Homo sapiens: one gene and its partner. The protein of the gene in region 2 purifies or fractionates together with the protein of the main gene of each other region. This does not show direct contact. Each region holds a gene or a part of one and is shown on either strand. Other genes may lie near its edges. The genes, in order: LONP1 and DCAF12L2.

Evidence for each region.
Region 1: the proteins of DCAF12L2 (region 2) and LONP1 purify together in Homo sapiens (co-immunoprecipitation; 3 studies listed by BioGRID and IntAct, with this or other methods). This does not show direct contact.

Annotation. Positions count from the first base shown.
Region 1 is NC_000019.10:5,695,526-5,704,054, reverse strand, and holds part of LONP1 (lon protease homolog, mitochondrial isoform 1 precursor), read left to right. Parts: exon of another isoform or gene 1-324; intron 325-3,127; coding exon 3,128-3,266; intron 3,267-4,849; coding exon 4,850-5,028; intron 5,029-7,297; coding exon 7,298-7,385; intron 7,386-7,683; coding exon 7,684-7,806; intron 7,807-7,884; coding exon 7,885-8,001; intron 8,002-8,529. UniProt on the Homo sapiens protein: ATP-dependent serine protease that mediates the selective degradation of misfolded, unassembled or oxidatively damaged polypeptides as well as certain short-lived regulatory proteins in the mitochondrial matrix.
Region 2 is NC_000023.11:126,163,290-126,172,470, forward strand, and holds DCAF12L2 (DDB1- and CUL4-associated factor 12-like protein 2), read right to left. Parts: upstream 3,001-9,181; 5' UTR 2,636-3,000; coding exon 1,244-2,635; 3' UTR 210-1,243; downstream 1-209.

The DNA of each region.
Region 1 (8,529 bases), on a different chromosome or scaffold from region 2:
TTCACTCAGCCCCATCTGCAGTTCCCTGCTGCCATGTGAGAGGCCTGTGCCGCCGCCTCCTGTGGGGGGAGAACGTAGATGTTTTCGGGGTTCTTCTGTCTCCCAGCGAGTGCCTCAGCTGCCCTTGGGCTGGTGGAAGTACCTGCTCAGACCGGGCCTTGTCCTGCAGAAGCAGATAGCTCCTTCCCCCAGGAGCTGAGGGGGTCTGTAAGGCGGGTTCTGTCCTCAGGTCCTGGGAAGTCACGGGGGACAAGCCCTCAGTACCTGCGTGTCACCAAGATGCCTGCAGCAGGCTGCCAGCTACCTCTCCCACCCAGAATGCTCTCCGCAAAGTGTCACTGCCTGTGTCACTTCCACAGTGACTTCATGTGTCTCTAAACTCCAGCATCCGTGTGGCCCAGCTGGCCTGTCCCGGTGCGTCTCGTATGCCCGTTGGGTGGCAGTGCGCCCTGACGGTGTCTGCTCGTGGGGCCGCCTGGCCCTTCCTCGGAAGCCGTCCTCCTCTTCATCCTCTTCCCCAATCCTGCCGTGTGCTCTTGCAGCCCTCACTGACTTGCTCCTGGCCCATAGTGGCCGCTGCTCACTGCTGCACGGCTCCCAACTTGGGGACCAATATGGAGTTGCCCTCCCAACCTTCAGCGTCACTCTCCCGGCAGGGGACCTGGCCTCCATTTCCCCACCTGCCCTGGGTCAGGCCTTGTCCCATTTTCTAAGCCTCGTCCCCTCTGTGGTTCTGCTCACTCAGCCCTGGGCAGAAGCCAGTGCCGTCTTGGCTCTCCTGATGAGTCAGCAGTGGACCTCCGGCCATCTCCTCCTTCCTGCACTGGGTGCTTTGGACAGGGCAGTTTGTAAATTTTTTTTTTTTTTTTTTTTTGAGATGGAGTCTCACTCTGTTGCCCAGGCTGGAGTGCAGTGGCACGATCTCGGCTCACTGCAAGCTCCGCCTCTCGGGTTCATGCCATTCTCCTGCCTCAGCCTCCCGAGTAGCTGGAACTACAGGTGTCCGCTGCCACGCCCAGCTAATTTTTTTTTTTTTTTTTATTGATCATTCTTGGGTGTTTCTCGCAGAGGGGGATTTGGCAGGGTCATAGGACAATAGTGGAGGGAGGGTCAGCAGATAAACAAGTGAACAAGGGTCTCTGGTTTTCCTAGGCAGAGGACCCTGCGGCCTTCCGCAGTGTTTGTGTCCCTGGGTACTTGAGATTAGGGAGTGGTGATGACTCTTAACCAGCATGCTGCCTTCAAGCATCTGTTTAACAAAGCACATCTTGCACCGCCCTTAATCCATTTAACCCTGAGTGGACACAGCACATGTTTCAGAGAGCACAGGGTTGGGGGTAAGGTCACCGATCAACAGGATCCCAAGGCAGAAGAATTTTTCTTAGTACAGAACAAAATGAAAAGTCTCTCATGTCTACTTCTTTCTACACAGACACGGCAACCATCCGATTTCTCAATCCTTTCCCCCTTTTCTATTCCACAAAACTGCCATTGTCATCATGGCCCGTTCTCAATGAGCTGTTGGGTACACCTCCCAGATGGGGCGGCTGGCCGGGCGGGGGGCTGACCCCCACTCCTCCCTCCCAGAGGGGGCGGCTGGCCAGGCAGAGGGGCTCCTCACTTCCCAGTAGGGGCGGCCGGGCAGAGGCGCCCCTCACCTCCCGGACGGGGCGGCTGGCCGGGCGGGGGGCTGACCCCCCCACCTCCCTCCCGGACGGGGCGGCTGGCTGGGCGGGGGGCTGACGCCTCCACCTCCCTCCCGGATGGGGCAGCTGGCCTGGTGGGGGGCTGACCCCCCCCCCAACCTCCCTCCCAGACGGGGCGGCTAGCCGGGCGGGGGGCTGACCCCCACTCCTCCCTCCCGGAGGGGGCGGCTGGCCGGGCAGAGGGGCTCCTCACTTCCCAGTAGGGGCGGCCGGGCAGAGGCGCCCCTCACCTCCCGGACGGGGCGGCTGGCCGGGTGGGGGGCTGACCCCCCCACCTCCCTCCCGGACGGGGTGGCTGCTGGGCGGAGACGCTCCTCACTTCTCAGACGGGTCGGTTGCCAGGCAGAGGGTCTCCTCACTTCTCAGGGCTGCCGGGCAGAGACGCTCTTCCCCTCCCAGACGGGGTCGCGGCCGGGCAGAGGCGCTCCTCATATCCCAGACAGGGCGGCGGGGCAGAGGCGCTCCCCACATCTCAGATGATGGGCGGCCGGGCAGAGACGCTCCTCACCTTCCAGACTGGGCAGCCAGGCAGAGGGGCTCCTCACATCCCAGACGATGGGCGGCCAGGCAGAGACGCTCCTCACTTCCCAGACAGGGTGGCGGCCGGGCAGAGGCTGCAATCTCGGCACTTTGGGAGGCTAAGGCAGGCGGCTGGGAGGTGGAGGTTGTAGCGAGCCGAGATCACGCCACTGCACTCCAGCCTGGGCACCATTGAGCACTGAGTGAACGAGACTCCGTCTGCAATCCCGGCACCTCGGGAGGCCGAGGCCGGCGGACCACTCGCGGTTAGGACCTGGAGACCAGCCCGGCCAACACAGTGAAACCCCGTCTCCACCAAAAAAATAGGAAAACCAGTCAGGCGTGGCGGCGCGCGCCTGCAATCGCAGGCACTCGGCAGGCTCAGGCAGGAGAACCAGGCAGGGAGGTTGCAGTGAGCCAAGATGGCAGCACACAGTCCAGCCTCGGCTCGGCATCAGAGGGAGACCATGGAAAGAGGGAAAGGGGAGACCGTGGAAAGGGGAGAGGCAGAGGGCAGAGGCAGAGGCAGAAGCATTTTTTGTATTTTTAGTAGAGACAGGGTTTCACCGTGCTAGCCAGGATGGTCTCGATCTCCTGACCTTGTGATCCGCCTGCCTCGGCCTCCCAAAATTCTGGGATTACAGGCGTGAGCCACTGTGCCTGGCCTGTAAATTGTTTTATAGAGATGGGGTCTTGCTGAGTTGCTCAGGCTGGTCTTGAACTCCTGGGCTCAAGTGATCCTCCCACCTGGGCCTCCCAAAGAGCTGGGATTACAGGCGTGAGCCACCGCGCTCAGCCCCACACATGGGTTTCAAGCCCCTTGCAACCACCCAGCCAAGTCCAGCAGAGAGACAGGCAGCTCGTGAGCTCCACTCAGCATCTCTCCATCTGTCCCCTGGCAGTGTCACCCGCAACTACCTAGACTGGCTCACGTCCATCCCTTGGGGCAAGTACAGCAACGAGAACCTGGACCTGGCGCGGGCACAGGCAGTGCTGGAGGAAGACCACTACGGCATGGAGGACGTCAAGAAACGCATCCTGGTGAGCCCAGTGTCTGGCCTGTTGTGGATTTGCATGTGGGTGCCCGGGCCCAGGACTCTTGTGTGCTGTGGGTTGAGATTTCAAAGGAGCCCCCTGGTGAATTCGTAGGCCTGGGGGTGCTGGTCGGGGGGATCCCGGCGGAGGTAGCATCCTGCCCTGCCCCCGAGGGCTCGAGGATTTCCCAGGTGGACTGAAGTCATGCCTGACGGGCCGGGCATGGTGGGGCTGCTTGTAGTCCCAGTTACTCAGGAGGCTGAGGCGGGAGGATCACTTGAGCCCAGGAAGTTGAGGCTGTGGTGAGCTGTGATCATGCCACTGCACATCAGGTTGGGTGACAGAGTGAGACCCCCATCTCTACAAAAAATTTTAAAATTGCGGCTGGGCGCTGTGGCTCATGCCTGTAATCCCAGCACTTTGGGAGGCTGAGGCATGCAGATCACCTGAGGTCGGGAGTTGAAGACCAGCCTGACCAACATGGAGAAACCCCATCTATACTAAAAATACAAAATTAGTTAGGCGTGGTGGCGCATGCCTGTAATCCCAGCTACTTGGGAGGCTGAGGCAGGAGAATCGCTTGAACCCAGGAGCCAGAGGTTGCAGTGAGCCCAGATCGTGCCATTGCACTCCAGCCTGGGCAACAAGAGTGAAACTCCGTCTCAAAAAGGAAAAAAAATTTTTTTTAATTAGCCTGGTGTGATGTTGCGTGTCTGCAGTCCCAGCTACTTGGGAGGCTGAGGTGGGAGGACTGCTTGAGCCCGGGAGGTGGAGGCTGCAGTGAGCTGTGATGCACCACTACACTCCAGCCTGGGTGACAGAGCGAGACCTTGTCTGAAAATTAATTAATTTTAAATTAATTTTTAAAATATCACTCCTGAGACATTGGAAACCAGGCAGGCAGGTGGGAGTCAAAGGTTAAAAAACAGGAGTCAGAGCCTGGGCATGGTGGCTCACACCTGTAATCCCAGCACTTGGGGAGGCCGAGGCGGGTGGATCACAAGGTCAGGAGTTCGAGACCAGCCTGACCAACATGGTGAAACCTCGCCTCTACTAAAAATACAAAAAAAGTAGCCAGGCATGGTGACTCACACCTGTAATCCCAGCTACTCAGGAGGCTGAGGCAGGAGAATTGCTTGAACCCAGGAGGCTGAGGTTGCAGTGAGATGAGATCGCACCAGTACACTCTAGCCTGGGCCACAGAGCAAGACTCCATCTCAAAAAAAAAAAAAAAAAAAACAGGAGCCAGAGGCATTGGTGGACTGCTTCTCTGGGTTGGACCGGAGAGAGTGGAGCATTTGCGGTCTTCAGGGTCCCGGGAACTGCTGAACGGGCCTGGCACTGCCGGGTGGCCGCGGTCTCCTAGCACCTAGTTGTCCTTTGGTGTTAAATTGTTAAATGGAGCCCTTGTCACAGGCTGCCCCTCCCCGTGGCCAGTGGCAGCTCTGATGTGCTCAGCCTCCCGGACAATCCTGGTCCCTTCTCGCAGCCCTCAGACGTCTGAAAGGCAGTGTGCAGGTGGCGAGAGTCATGCGCGGGTCCCCGGCTTCCCCAGCTCACGTGCCCACTGAACCTGCCTCTGTCTGCAGGAGTTCATTGCCGTTAGCCAGCTCCGCGGCTCCACCCAGGGCAAGATCCTCTGCTTCTATGGCCCCCCTGGCGTGGGTAAGACCAGCATTGCTCGCTCCATCGCCCGCGCCCTGAACCGAGAGTACTTCCGCTTCAGCGTCGGGGGCATGACTGACGTGGCTGAGATCAAGGGCCACAGGTAGGCCTGGCCTGACAGCTCTCCCCACGCACTCCCCTCAGCTGTGCTGCCGGGCTTCGTCTTCTCCGGTCACCCTTTAACATCTGGTAGAGCAATCCGGGTTGTGGGCAACCGATTCCACTCATGCTGGAGTAACTGAAAAGTCCAGCCATGTGGCGGACTTCAGGCCCAGCTGATTCCAGGTGCTCAAACAGCGCTGGCAGGAACCTCCATGGCTTGACCCCTGGGAGAGAGACTTCTCGGGCCGGCCCTCAGCAGACACCCCCGGTAGTTCCAGCATAGGACCTGCAATGCCCGGGCCAGAGCTGCAGGGCCGGCGTTTGCCGTGCAGATGCTGGTCTATGTGGGCTGTGGCTGATGCCCCAGGACTAGGGGTGGGGTCGGCTCCACCCCCCACCCCGAAGCCTGTGGGCTGGAGTCAGGAGAGACGGTCTCCAGTGAGGACCGGGCCGCGCACACCAGAGAAACCTTGGCGCCTCTGTGGGCTCACTCGTCCCGGCCAGCCTCAGGCCCAGAAGCAGGGGCCACGGCCCTCAGAGTTCAGCGCCCTCCCACCTGACCCTTTGGGTGGGCAGCCGGGCGCGGCTTTTCTGGGGCTTCCCTCCTCGCCAGCCTCTGTAGACAGCGGTTCTTTGGAAACCGTAGCCTCAGTGAGAGCCGAGTGTGAGGCATCTGCTGAGTCCACCACGTGTTTCCATCCTGCAAGGCATTCACTTGAGTCCAGGTTTAAAGTGAACATTTCTGCCTTCTCTAAAAACATCCCCAGCTCCCGACCTCCCGGCTCAGGCCTTCCTAGCATCTGCCCGCCCGCTGCAAGGGTGACAGCATGCTGGCCCGCGCAGTGTCCAGTCCCCAGGGGGCGGCCACTCTGACCAGCCGGGAGTTGGGAGGAGCTGGAGGAGGTGGGGCCAGTGCAGCTTTGGGGAGTCCCAGATTGACTAGGGGGTGGGGGGTGTGAGGGGGAGGACAGGGGACCTGTTCTGCAGGCCCTTGGTTGGGCTGGGGTCTGAGCAGGAAGGAGCAGCTGGGTGAAGGTGGAGGGGTGGGGGTGGGGGGCACCCAGTCCTTCCTGGGCAAGCGGTTTGAAGTGGTCGCGAAGCCTCTTGGAGCCTGGTTCAGGGATGGCTGGAGGTGCGGGCCGGAGGAGAGACCCTGGCGGGGTTCTGAACAAGCCTGGGTCACCTCTGGCCTTGGGAGGGAGTCACCAGGTAGCGGGGCTGCGGGGAGGGCAGGCGTCTGCTGACGTCTCTGGGTTCCTGAGACAAGGACAAGGACAGGAGACTGGCTGCGGGGCGATGGATCGTTGTTATTAACAGCAGCAAAACCCTCCTTTGCCCCCAGCTCTCCAGGGCTCCCACGTTCCTCGGTCAAAGCCCAAGTTCTCACTGCAGCCCACAGGACCCCGCATGACCTGCCCCACCCCCTCCTCTCTCTCCCTCTCTTCTTCCTCCCCCTCCCTCTACCCCCTTCCCTCTCCATCTCCTCCCTCTTCCCCCTCTCCTCCCTCTTCTCTCCCCCCCTCCTCCCTCTGCCTCAGCCTCATGGCCTCCTCACTGTTCTTCTAACACACCAGGCGTGGTCCTGTTTCAGGGCCTTTGCACGGGCTGTGTCCTGGGCCTGGAACACATCTCTCAGACCCTCACGTGGCTCTCTCCTCACGTGCGTTGCTCGGGGCCTCTCCCTAAGACACTCCTTACCCCCCTGCACACTTAAAGTGTCACACACATCCCAGTGGCATCTCAGTCCCTCCATCCCTGCCTCCCTGTGTCTTCATCCCACAGACAGAGCCTTCCTCACTGTCTCTCGTGGGGCCTGGGATTCTTCTGTCCCTGTCGCGGGCCGGGCCCCTGTGCTGGGGCAGAGCACAGAGCTTGCAGGAAGCCCTCCTGAGAGCCAGTGCTGGCCATGGCTAGTATCACCCCAGCCCTTGAGGGCTGAGGCGTGCCTGGCGTCCCTCAGTGAGGAGTGGGGGCCTTCTGCTGCCAGCGCCTGTCTGGCTTTCACCATGGTGTCAGCTGAGGGATGGGACTGAGGGAGATCTGGCTTTGAATCAGTGACCCCAGAATCTGAGCTGGCGAGTCAGGGCAAGTGACCAGCGTGCCTGCAGGTGCCACACATCCGGCGGCTGCCAGCATTTCCGCCTCCCACATCATGGCCACATCTTGTGGGGCTCCAGGTGGCCTCTCCCCTGTGGCCCTGGAGGGTGCATGGTGTCGTTGTGGCCGAGCCAGGCTACCAAGTGACCTCTGACCCCGCTGTGCACCCACAGGCGGACCTACGTGGGCGCCATGCCCGGGAAGATCATCCAGTGTTTGAAGAAGACCAAGACGGAGAACCCCCTGATCCTCATCGACGAGGTGCGTGCGGAGAGGCCCGGAGACCCCCTAACCCGGCAATGCCGTGTGCAAGATGAAGCCGAGCCTTCCGGGTCCTAGGATCCCCGAGCCAACTCAGGGGCCATCGCCGTGATGCTGGCCCTGATGGCACGGACGGGTCCCTCCCACCCACAGCCACGCCCAGCAGGCTGCCCGTCCAAGGCAGGGTGTGGGTGCCGCTCTCACTCGGGGTCTCCCCAGCCCTGACCCTGGGGTCTCCCCACTGGGCGGGCTGGCCAGGGGCACGGCGAGGGGCACCACCTGCTGTCTGCTGCCCCAGGTGGACAAGATCGGCCGAGGCTACCAGGGGGACCCGTCGTCGGCACTGCTGGAGCTGCTGGACCCAGAGCAGAATGCCAACTTCCTGGACCACTACCTGGACGTGCCCGTGGACTTGTCCAAGGTGGGGGGCCTGTCTGGGGCCTGGGCTTGCTGGGGAGGGTAAGCGGCCAGTCCCCCAGCACCTTGCCGCCGCCCCCAGGTGCTGTTCATCTGCACGGCCAACGTCACGGACACCATCCCCGAGCCGCTGCGAGACCGTATGGAGATGATCAACGTGTCGGGCTACGTGGCCCAGGAGAAGCTGGCCATTGCGGAGGTAAGCCCAGCCCCTCCCCACTGCTGTCCCCTTCCCAGAGCAGGGGGCGCCCCCCAGAGCCTGCAGAGGCCGTGCCTCTGGGAGCTCCTGGGCCCGGGAGAGACAGGTGGGACCTGCGGCCGAGGAGCAGATGGGGCCGTGAGAGACACACCAGACGCTTGCGAGCAGCTGCAGGTGGCGCGAGTGGGCGCAGGGTTTAGGGCCTGGGACTGTCCAAAACACCGCCCACCACCGTCAGGCCACACACTCTGTCTCCCGGGGCCTCCAGGCTGCCCCATGGTGGGGCCCCCACCTGGCCCAGAGTGTAGGGAAGGTTTCTGGCAGCCGGAAGCAGTGGGGCCTGTGGCTCCCACCCAGAATGAGGCTTGGAGGAGAAGTGGTTTCAGTGAGGAGCATGCAGGGGCCCATATTTCTCATGTGTTTTTTTTTCTGCAAAGGTGCTGAGTGCATTTCTCCCCTAGGAGCCCTTTGACAGCCAGTGGTGGGCACTGGTCCCTGCCCTTGAGGCCCTCCCAGCATCCTCGTGTC
Region 2 (9,181 bases):
TTTCATAACGTATTCAAGATGTTGTTTAATCTTTTAACTTATAAGTTTCATTTTCAAAAAGAGATGTACAAAGTAATGTCTGCATAGCTAATGCTTCAGATTCAGCTTCTGTCCTGGAAAGTTTTGACTTTGATAAATACGTTCTCAGAAAGACAAATGAAAAAAGAAAGCATATATTTAAGTATTAAGAACTTAAGTCTGCCACTTAATTGCTAAGATGATGAACACATTTTATTTATTTTTCTGCAACACATCACATACTGGATCCAGAATTATCCATGTATACAGTAATAAAAAATCAACACCTACTCTGAGCACAACTGCCACAACTGGCTTTTCACTGTAAATAGCTACCTGAATTTAAAGAGATGTGTACCCCATATACCCCCAAAAATACCTCCCTGATTGCACTACCACATATATAGACCAGAATTGAGTAGTTCTGAAAATCTGTAGCATAGAAAAGCAGGCCATAATACAGCGGCTTTAAATAAGAACACGGAGGGCCTGAGGATAGTAAAGTTTTACTGAATAACCAAAAATGTTGATTAATAGTATGAACAACATTGTAAGATTTCTAACTAACAGAACATATTTTTAAAGCATTTTACACATCAACACTATACAAACAACAGACATTGAGTTTCCAACATCCAAATGAATCACGCCCTAGAATGGTGTGTGCCACACTCTAGAATGGTGGCAATCTAGAACCTGAACTGCATTTTGTAATTAGAGTAAGGCTATAAATGATGGGTAGTTCCTCAAAACAACCCCAAAGATGCTTTGTAGCTCACATTTCCCCAAAACACCACACATCTAACATGTGTAAAAGATCTGAACACTATTGCAATATTGATAAAACTAACGTACTGAATAGTAGTGAAGACTATGACTACATCAACCTAAAGAAGGAGGGTATGTGAATCACTGAAAGACAGAACACAATTAAGGTTTAGCCAAAACTCTTTGAATGAGAAGGCAAAAATATACTGCTGTTGGGAAACGTGAATGAGAGTTTTAAAGCCAAAGTTTTGACTGCCGAAAGGACCACTTGTGCTCTCTCGCTCCCGCTCTCTCTCTTTCTTTCTCTGCCTAATACATTAAGCACACGTAAGTTGGACTGGTTCCACCTGGAAGACAAAAGCCACACAAAGTTAAAAGCACAAATGCAGCATGAAGAAGGAAAGTCAGGCGGAACTGAAAGGTAAACCTGTGCACTTTGAGAACAAGGCGTCCATCCTTAACTCCAGAGGCCTGCGTAGTTCCCATGGAGGCCTGAAGGGAGAGGCCCCCCAGCCACAAAGAGCTTCATCTCCGGCCAGTTGTAGCAGTGGGTGTAGAGCGCATTGGGGAACTCTCCCATGCCACCAAAGTAGTTCACCCAGACGTCATCTTGGTTGAGCCAGCCTCTGCCGCAGGCAAGCTTGAGCTTCCTCCCTGCGGGCCCCGGCATGGAGTCCAGGCTGGAAGAGGCCCTCTCCTCCAGGAACTTCTGGGCGCGGATGTCATAGAAGAGCAGGGAACCATGGCCGGTGCCCACAGTGATGATGTGCTGGTAGAAGCTCAGCGACCGCACGCCTGTGCCACCCTCTCGAGAGCACAGGGGCCGGATGTTCTGCTGGCGCTGGCGCGGATCCAGGAAGGAGACGTGGGACTGAGAGCCCACAGCGTACAGGGACAACTCATCACAGTAGGTCAGGCACACATTCTCTCGGCAGTAGGGCAGCCTGATGGACAGGAGCCTGGATAGTGTGCTCCGGGCTTTCCACAGGTGGAAGTAGCCGTCCAAGGACACCGCTCCCAGCTCCTGGTTCTTGCCGCTGAAGGCCAGGGCCCGTACCTTGCGGTTGCTGGGGTTGGTGCTGGCCCTGGGGATGGCCTCCACATCCCTCGGACGGATGTGGGCATATACTGGGAGACCCACCTCGCTGTGCCAGGCAATGCTGCCATTAAACATGTCTGGGTCCATCCGCCACAGAGCCACGGTGCCGTCGCGGGAGCCGCTCACAGCTACGGTGTCACTCAGCCAGGCGACTGCGAAGATCCAGTCCTTGTGGCCATGGCGGTCGCCCAGGCACAGGGGGTCCAGGGTGGGCAGCTGGTAGATGGCCAGGCTGTTGGGGTTTTCGCCGCCGGTGGCCAGAAGCGTCTTGGAGGGATTCAGCTCGATGGCATGGATGCCGCAGCCCTGGTGGGCCTGGGCCAGCCCGGCCTCCTTGTCCCGCATGAGGGGGATGCGCGTGATGTGGCCTGACTGCACGTCCACCACAAACAGCGTATTACACTTGGTGCCGCACACCACCTGCCTGGCGTTCAGCCACTGTGACGCGAACACCTTGTTGAGGGTGCCCAGGTCCAGCTGGCGCTCCGTCAGCAGCTCGGGCAGCCTCTGGACGGCGTAGCCCCGCAGCTCGCCCTCGAAGCCCTGGAGCCCGGCTGGGCCCCGCGCTCCTACCTCCCGGCCCTTCAGATAGTGCACCAGCCTGCGACGCGTCGCCGGCCGCTTCTGCTTCTTGGGTAGCAGAGGCCCCTCTCCGTCCGCCGCCGCTAAACCCTGCGACGACGAGCTCCCGGCTCCCGCCTCGACCGCGGGCGCTTTCCGTTTCCTGCTACCTGTTTGCTGCTGGGCCATGGTGGGCGGCGGGCGATCTGCAGCAGCGGCGGCGGCGGCGGCGGCGGCGGCGGCGGCCCGGCGGCGGTGGCGGCGCGTGGCACCCGTGTTGGCCGTGGCGGCGGTGGTGGGGATGGCTGCGCTTCCGCGTCAGCCGAGAGCTCAGGATCTCTAAGACCAAGAAGCTGGTGCGATCGCGGGCGCCCAGACTTCAGTCTGAGGCTCGGCGGCGGCGGCGGCGGCAGCGGTCGTCCTGGCCAGAGATGCGCGGCCTGACGTAGCAGAGCCGGGGCGAAGCGCGGCGGCAAGGGCGGCAGTGGCGGTGCAGACCTAGGCGAGAGCGGGAAGAGTGTCTGTCTGGATGGCTGCGGGAGCGAAGTCAGTGTGGGGGGAGGACGACGCTGGGGCCCGAGTGTGAAGGGCGGAGGCAGTGGGAGGAGCTGCTGGGCTGGCGTGGGGTGCCTGCCGGGTAGCGGAGGCCGCGCGGGGTGGAGGCTGGAAGGGGGCGGAGGGGAGAAGGGGGTAGCGGAGCTGCAGGGGCAGAGTCGCGGAGGGCCAGCACCCTAGGTCCCCAGTATCAGACATGCGTTGTTTCGCTACCCTCAGGACAACAGCTAACTACCCTTCTTAAAATCCGTACTTCAGTAAAATCTGAAACCTAAGATATAATCAAGCACGGGGCTAGAAGGAGGCCGAGCCACGGTCTGCCTGGAGAAACCAGTGTGCGCTTGGTGTAATCTTGGGACACCCTTCGCTTAGATTATACATTGAATTTGGCAAGGGATCGGGTGCGGGGGTGGGGGGGTGTGGGGTTCAGCAGCGTCAGGGAGACCTCTACCCTCGTGTCAGACCTGCAGCTTCTCCAGTTTCAGCTCCTGGGTTGATGTCTTAAACAGTTTCCACCAAATAATTTTTTTCCCCTTCTCAAACTGAAGTCTTTGAGCACCTGAATCCCTGAGCATTTGAACTGCGTTCCAAATGCAGTTCCCTAGGCCCTGCTTTCCACCCGGGTGGTATCAGGGACCCTTTAGTCAGAAAGCAGCCTCAGGAGCATCCAGGGCTGCAGTGATGATAGGGGTGGAGACATGGGGGTGAGGGGTGAAGAGAAGGGTTTTTCTGTAAGGCATTGAGTTCTTTCGAACTCAGCCCAGGGCGGGTGGAGTGAAGGGGAAGAGGTCCAGGAGAGGGGTACCTCCCTCTCTCTCCTGGGACGGAAAGGTCAGCCCAAACTTTCAGTCATAGGAATCTTGGCAGAGCCCTCTCTTGGTGTGGGGGCCCCCTTGGGCATTGGTACAGTACTCAGAGGAATGCACAGGATTTCCACAGGCACAGATGATAAAGAACTTTGCAAAGTGACTAAATGGCAAAATGGTGAGAGTGTGGATATTCAAAGCATGAGTTTGGCAGTCTGAGAAGTTACATGATCCACACCTGCTCTAAAGCTTTAGGGCAGTCAATCCTAAAGCAAGCCCCCAATTCCACAGTAATACCTTGCACTGAAATGCTGGTGGCTGATACCAGGTCTGCACAGGCCCCAATCGTCCTCCACAAAAAAAGTCTTTGTTAAGCGTGTTTGCAGAAGTCAGGTGGTGAGTTAACTGTCCTTGATCAGAGATCATGAAAATACTTTGTTGCTGTTTCCCCCCAATTCTCCCTGCTCTTTTTACAAACTTATCTCAAACCCAGAAACTCCAAGTGCACCATGGATCCTTCACATCACTCCAGTCCAACTGTTGCACCTTAGTGCCCATCCTCCCCTTCTCTGCCTCAATATTCCTACCCATGTTTAGTGCTGTATCAAGAGGAGGGTGAGGGTGACGGATTGGGAGTAATCTGACAATGAAAAAAATGCTGACGATTTCATAATTGGAAGTGACATTACTAGAGAAAAACTGATCACAAATTTCTTTAACCTAACCTATCTTAAGGCTTTCTTTTCTTTTCTAAAAAATCTTGACTTAGAAAACTTGATATTATATAAGACTTCATGGCATATTTTTTACTGTTGCGGTAAATAAAATAGGCTCAAAATCTTAGGCTATTATCAGACTAGTTGGTCATATATAACATATGTATAACAAATTGGCTGAAATATGTATGTGTGTATATATATGGTTTATATATATTACATATATATGTGTATGTATATATGGGTTTTTCTCCACATAAACTTTTTTTAATTTGTGCAAATATATGGAGTACATGAGGAATTTTGTTACATGTATATATGCCTAGCGATCAGGTCAGAGTATTTAGGGTGTCCATCACCAGTGTACAATACATTTCTGTTAAGTATAGTCACCCTTTCCTGCTATCCAACATTGAGTTTATTCCTTCAGTCTTATTGTATGCCTGTACCCTTTAACCCTTTCTCTTCATCCTCCCCTCTCCCCACTACCCTTCCCAGTTTCCATTATCTATCTTTCCACTTTCTACCTGCATATGATCACATTTTTTAGCTCCCATATATAAGTGAAAATATGGAATATTTGTCTTTTTGTGCCTAGCTTATTTCACTTCAGATAATGATTTACAGTTTCATCCATGTTGCTGCAAATGACATGATTTCTTTCTTTTATGGTTGAGTAGTATTACATTGTGCATAAATACCACATTTGTAAAAGTAAATAATGCTTATAACAGCTATTATCTATTGAAAACTTATTCATATCATGGGCTGGAGGGATGTGTTAAATGCTTCAAATGCTAAATACTTTATGTACATTTGGCATCACAATAACTTTATAAGGTAGGTTCTATTTTTATTGCCCTGTTTTAAAATGAGGGAAATTGAGGCTCAGTAAAGGTAGTGACTCCCCCATTGTCACACAGCTAGTAAGTGATAAAGTCAAGATGTGAATCTCTGTGTGACTCTAATACTTTCATAACTTAAGACTACTTTATATTATTCAACAAACTTTTTTTGTTTCCTTCTCTTAAAAACCATGTAAACTACCTCTATTGTTGAAATTTTATACGCAATGTCTTCTGTGCTTCTTAAAGATAACCGGAAGTGATAAATAAATAAATACTGAATGCAAATGATGTACAACATTGTCCATATGATATTTAAAGGCAAATATATCATCTCTGGGACCTATTTTTTACACATTTCTTTTAATTAATACTTATGAGGTGCAGTAATATGTATTCACAAGTTTTTTTATGTTTGGTGAAAACATCCACATAAATCTCCACTTTTTGTTAATGTAAATATGTAATATTTAAATATAATAATATGTTTGTAGGGAGTGGTCAGATTACTATCATGTATTGATAAATGAGTTAGGTTAACTTCCTCTGGAATATTATACCTGAAACACATTTCTTTTACGCTAGGCTTTCAAATTTCTCTAAGCTCTTTAAAGCTGTACAAACAACTTCCAGACCAAAGGCAAGATATATTGAGAGATGTACAGTTTTGTATATGAACTTGCAATTTTGAACTTCCTTTGCATCTGGTTACTTCCATGTTCAGGAAAATACAATATCTGCTAATATATAACATCATAAATAGTGCATTTATTGTTGAAACAGTAGCTGCAATGGCATGTGATAAAAATGTCAGGTATCTGCATAGTTTTCTGAGTGTTGGGATCCCAATAAGGTACTTCTGTTACCTCTGAGGGCTGCTGTCTATGTGAGTGTGAATATTTTGTCAGTCCTTACCGAGATATTTCTGTGTTTATTATAGGTTTTTGCTTTGTATTAGACTAGCCTGTCTCCCTACCCTAGATTCCCCGCCATTGAATAGGGTCTTATATGAATGGCTTCAGGGCACTGTCTCATGCTGTTCTCTAATTACTTAATGTGTTTAAATTTTGTTATCCCAATCAGATTGTAAGCTCCTCAAAAGGTTACATGTTTCCTACTTATTTTGTACCATCACACCGTCCTAGGTAAGTAGTCAATGGTTTATGAAAACTTGGGATTTACTTGTTGATAAGTAAAGAGAACTAAAAGAGAGAAAAGAAATTGAAATATCCAACAAGTAGAAGATATTTTGAAATTAAATTACTTGAAATGGAGAAAGTGAGGGACTTGAATTGTAATAATGCCACATAACTTGTTTGAATTTACATAGATATCTATGCAGACCTATTTTGACCTACATATCTATATATACATAATTTCAAACAAGTTGTTGTATTATTAGCTATGCTTATTTATTTACATTTATATTTATATTTACATATGTTTCCTTGAACCATTGGATGATTTCATCAACTGTGTCTGTCCACTTTTCTAATCTATGAATGAAAAAATGAGATGTCTAGCCAATAACCAAAATAGATTAACAATTAAAAATTAAGGCAGAATATTTGTTACTTCCCTGTGGTATCATGAATATAAACTTGTTTCTAAATGTGTTTTAAATTATTTTTAAAGTGTTAGATTTTATGTCCAAAACTAAAATAATCTCAGGAAAAAGATACTGAAAGTTGAGAAAAAGGTGGGGCAATAGTAAGACGGGTGGATCAGTAACAAGTCTGTTTGAATAAATTCTAAAAGTGGCTTTCATATAATCAACAGAAAAATAGATGTTACAAATAAGGCCTTACAAATTGCAGCATATTTTCAGATATAGAGGCATTTGTGTTCAGAAATGTGATCATATAGTAATTTCCAATATGTTGTATATAGATATGAAACAAAGATGCCCTTAAAAGTATATTGTGACATCTTTCTTACATTTGTATGTATAGCATTTGCATTTTCTTTATCAGCAAGTATAAATATAAGACACTGAAAAAAGAAATATAGTTAATTAAGCTTGTTTTAAAATAACATCTGATAATGATATGGTTACTTATACCAGACACAAGACAAAATATTCTTGAATTATTAAATTGAATAAATTTTCCCTTAATCTCTAATTATAACACAGTCATAACATTTTCAAGTTGTGACCTTCTCAAGTCTCTTAAGATAAGCAGCTATGAACCTGGTTTGTGGTCAGATTATTCTTCCAAACTTCATGACGCAGAAAGTGATATAGATGACTCAGCAAGTTGTTTCGCCCTATGATGGCACAACTAAAGGCATATGCTGTCAGATGGGGTAAGATAGGAAAGATTTATCACATTATTACATTTACTATAAACAGAATTAGAGGAAAGGAGGCAATTTTGACCACATGACCTCTTCTATGCCCTACTCCTCTCCATATTTTCTAAGAGGAAGGAGTGTGTCAGAGTCCAAGCTTGGGCTTTGTTTTGTGAGAGGGTAGATTCAATGCTAGTTATATGTTTTGTGGGAGACACTACAGGCTAGTGGTTATGTGAATCGGCTCTGGAGCCAGATAACATATTTTGAATTCTGGTTCTAGGGCTTGCTGGCCTTGAAACTGGGCCAGTTATAATATTCCCTTTGCAATTATCCCCAGATTTTTTAAATGGGGATAATAATAGCACTTATTCCATGGGGTTTTGTTTTGATGGCTAAATGAGTTAATACATATATAACAATAAGAATAGTGCCTGGCAGATTATAAAGCACTTAATACATTTCTTAAAACTACCTTCCCTCCTTTCCACTACTTAACTTTACAAAGACAACTTGGTAGCAATGCTAATAGGGTTTTGTGAGTGTCCGCTGTATTGTGAAACACATATAAACACCATTATGAAAACTGGCACACATGGGGATAAATTATTTGTAGTAAGAGCTACTTGTCTGTTCACATACAGCTCATCAATGTCTATTTTGTTGCCAACCTAAAGATGAATATTAGTATGGGAAGAATGTATTGTAAGAATAACTTTACCGCATGCTAGTAGATCACCAAGTGGAAGTTGTAAGGTTTATTTTTTGAAGCAGCCAGACTTGGGTTCCTTTTGCAAATAATTGTCAATATAAATATCGACAAAGAACAAAGAACTGATCTTTTCTTAGATTTAGAGCATTTCTTATCAGTTGATAGTTGTGAAATTGGATAGACTGAAAATAGGCCATAGATAATGCTCCGATATTAGCTAGGTACATAAAAGAAGACCTGGAGGGAGATTATGTCCATAAAATTGATTGAGAAATCATTCTATTCCATGCTCTGAAATGTTTTAACCAGATATATATGCCTAGTTGCTATTTTCCCAACTTTCAATACCATCTTACTCCTAGCTTTAAATGCATAATATATGCCAAGCCATCTCAATTTTGTATCTCTATCCCAAACCTGTTTGTTCAACTTCCTGCTTGACATCTTGGCTACCAAAACAGAACTTCAAATTCAGACTGTATGAGCTCAAGTTATTGATTTCAGTCCCCATATACTTGAGCTTATATAGTTCCCTGTTTTAATGAATAGTATCGCCATCCATCCAGCTGTACAAACTGAAGTCCTAGCAACTATCCTTGACACACATTTTTTGTCTTCAGGTTCAATATTCCATCTTCTACCATTTCTCAAATTCATTTAATTCTCAGTATTTCCACAGCTACCATCCTTTCCCAAGCCACCTTCATAAGTGATTTTCCTAAAACTACGCTTTTCCTCCTCCATTCAATTATCCAGGCTGTACCCAGAGTAATGCTCGCAAAATACAGATCTGCCCATGTCACTAAAAT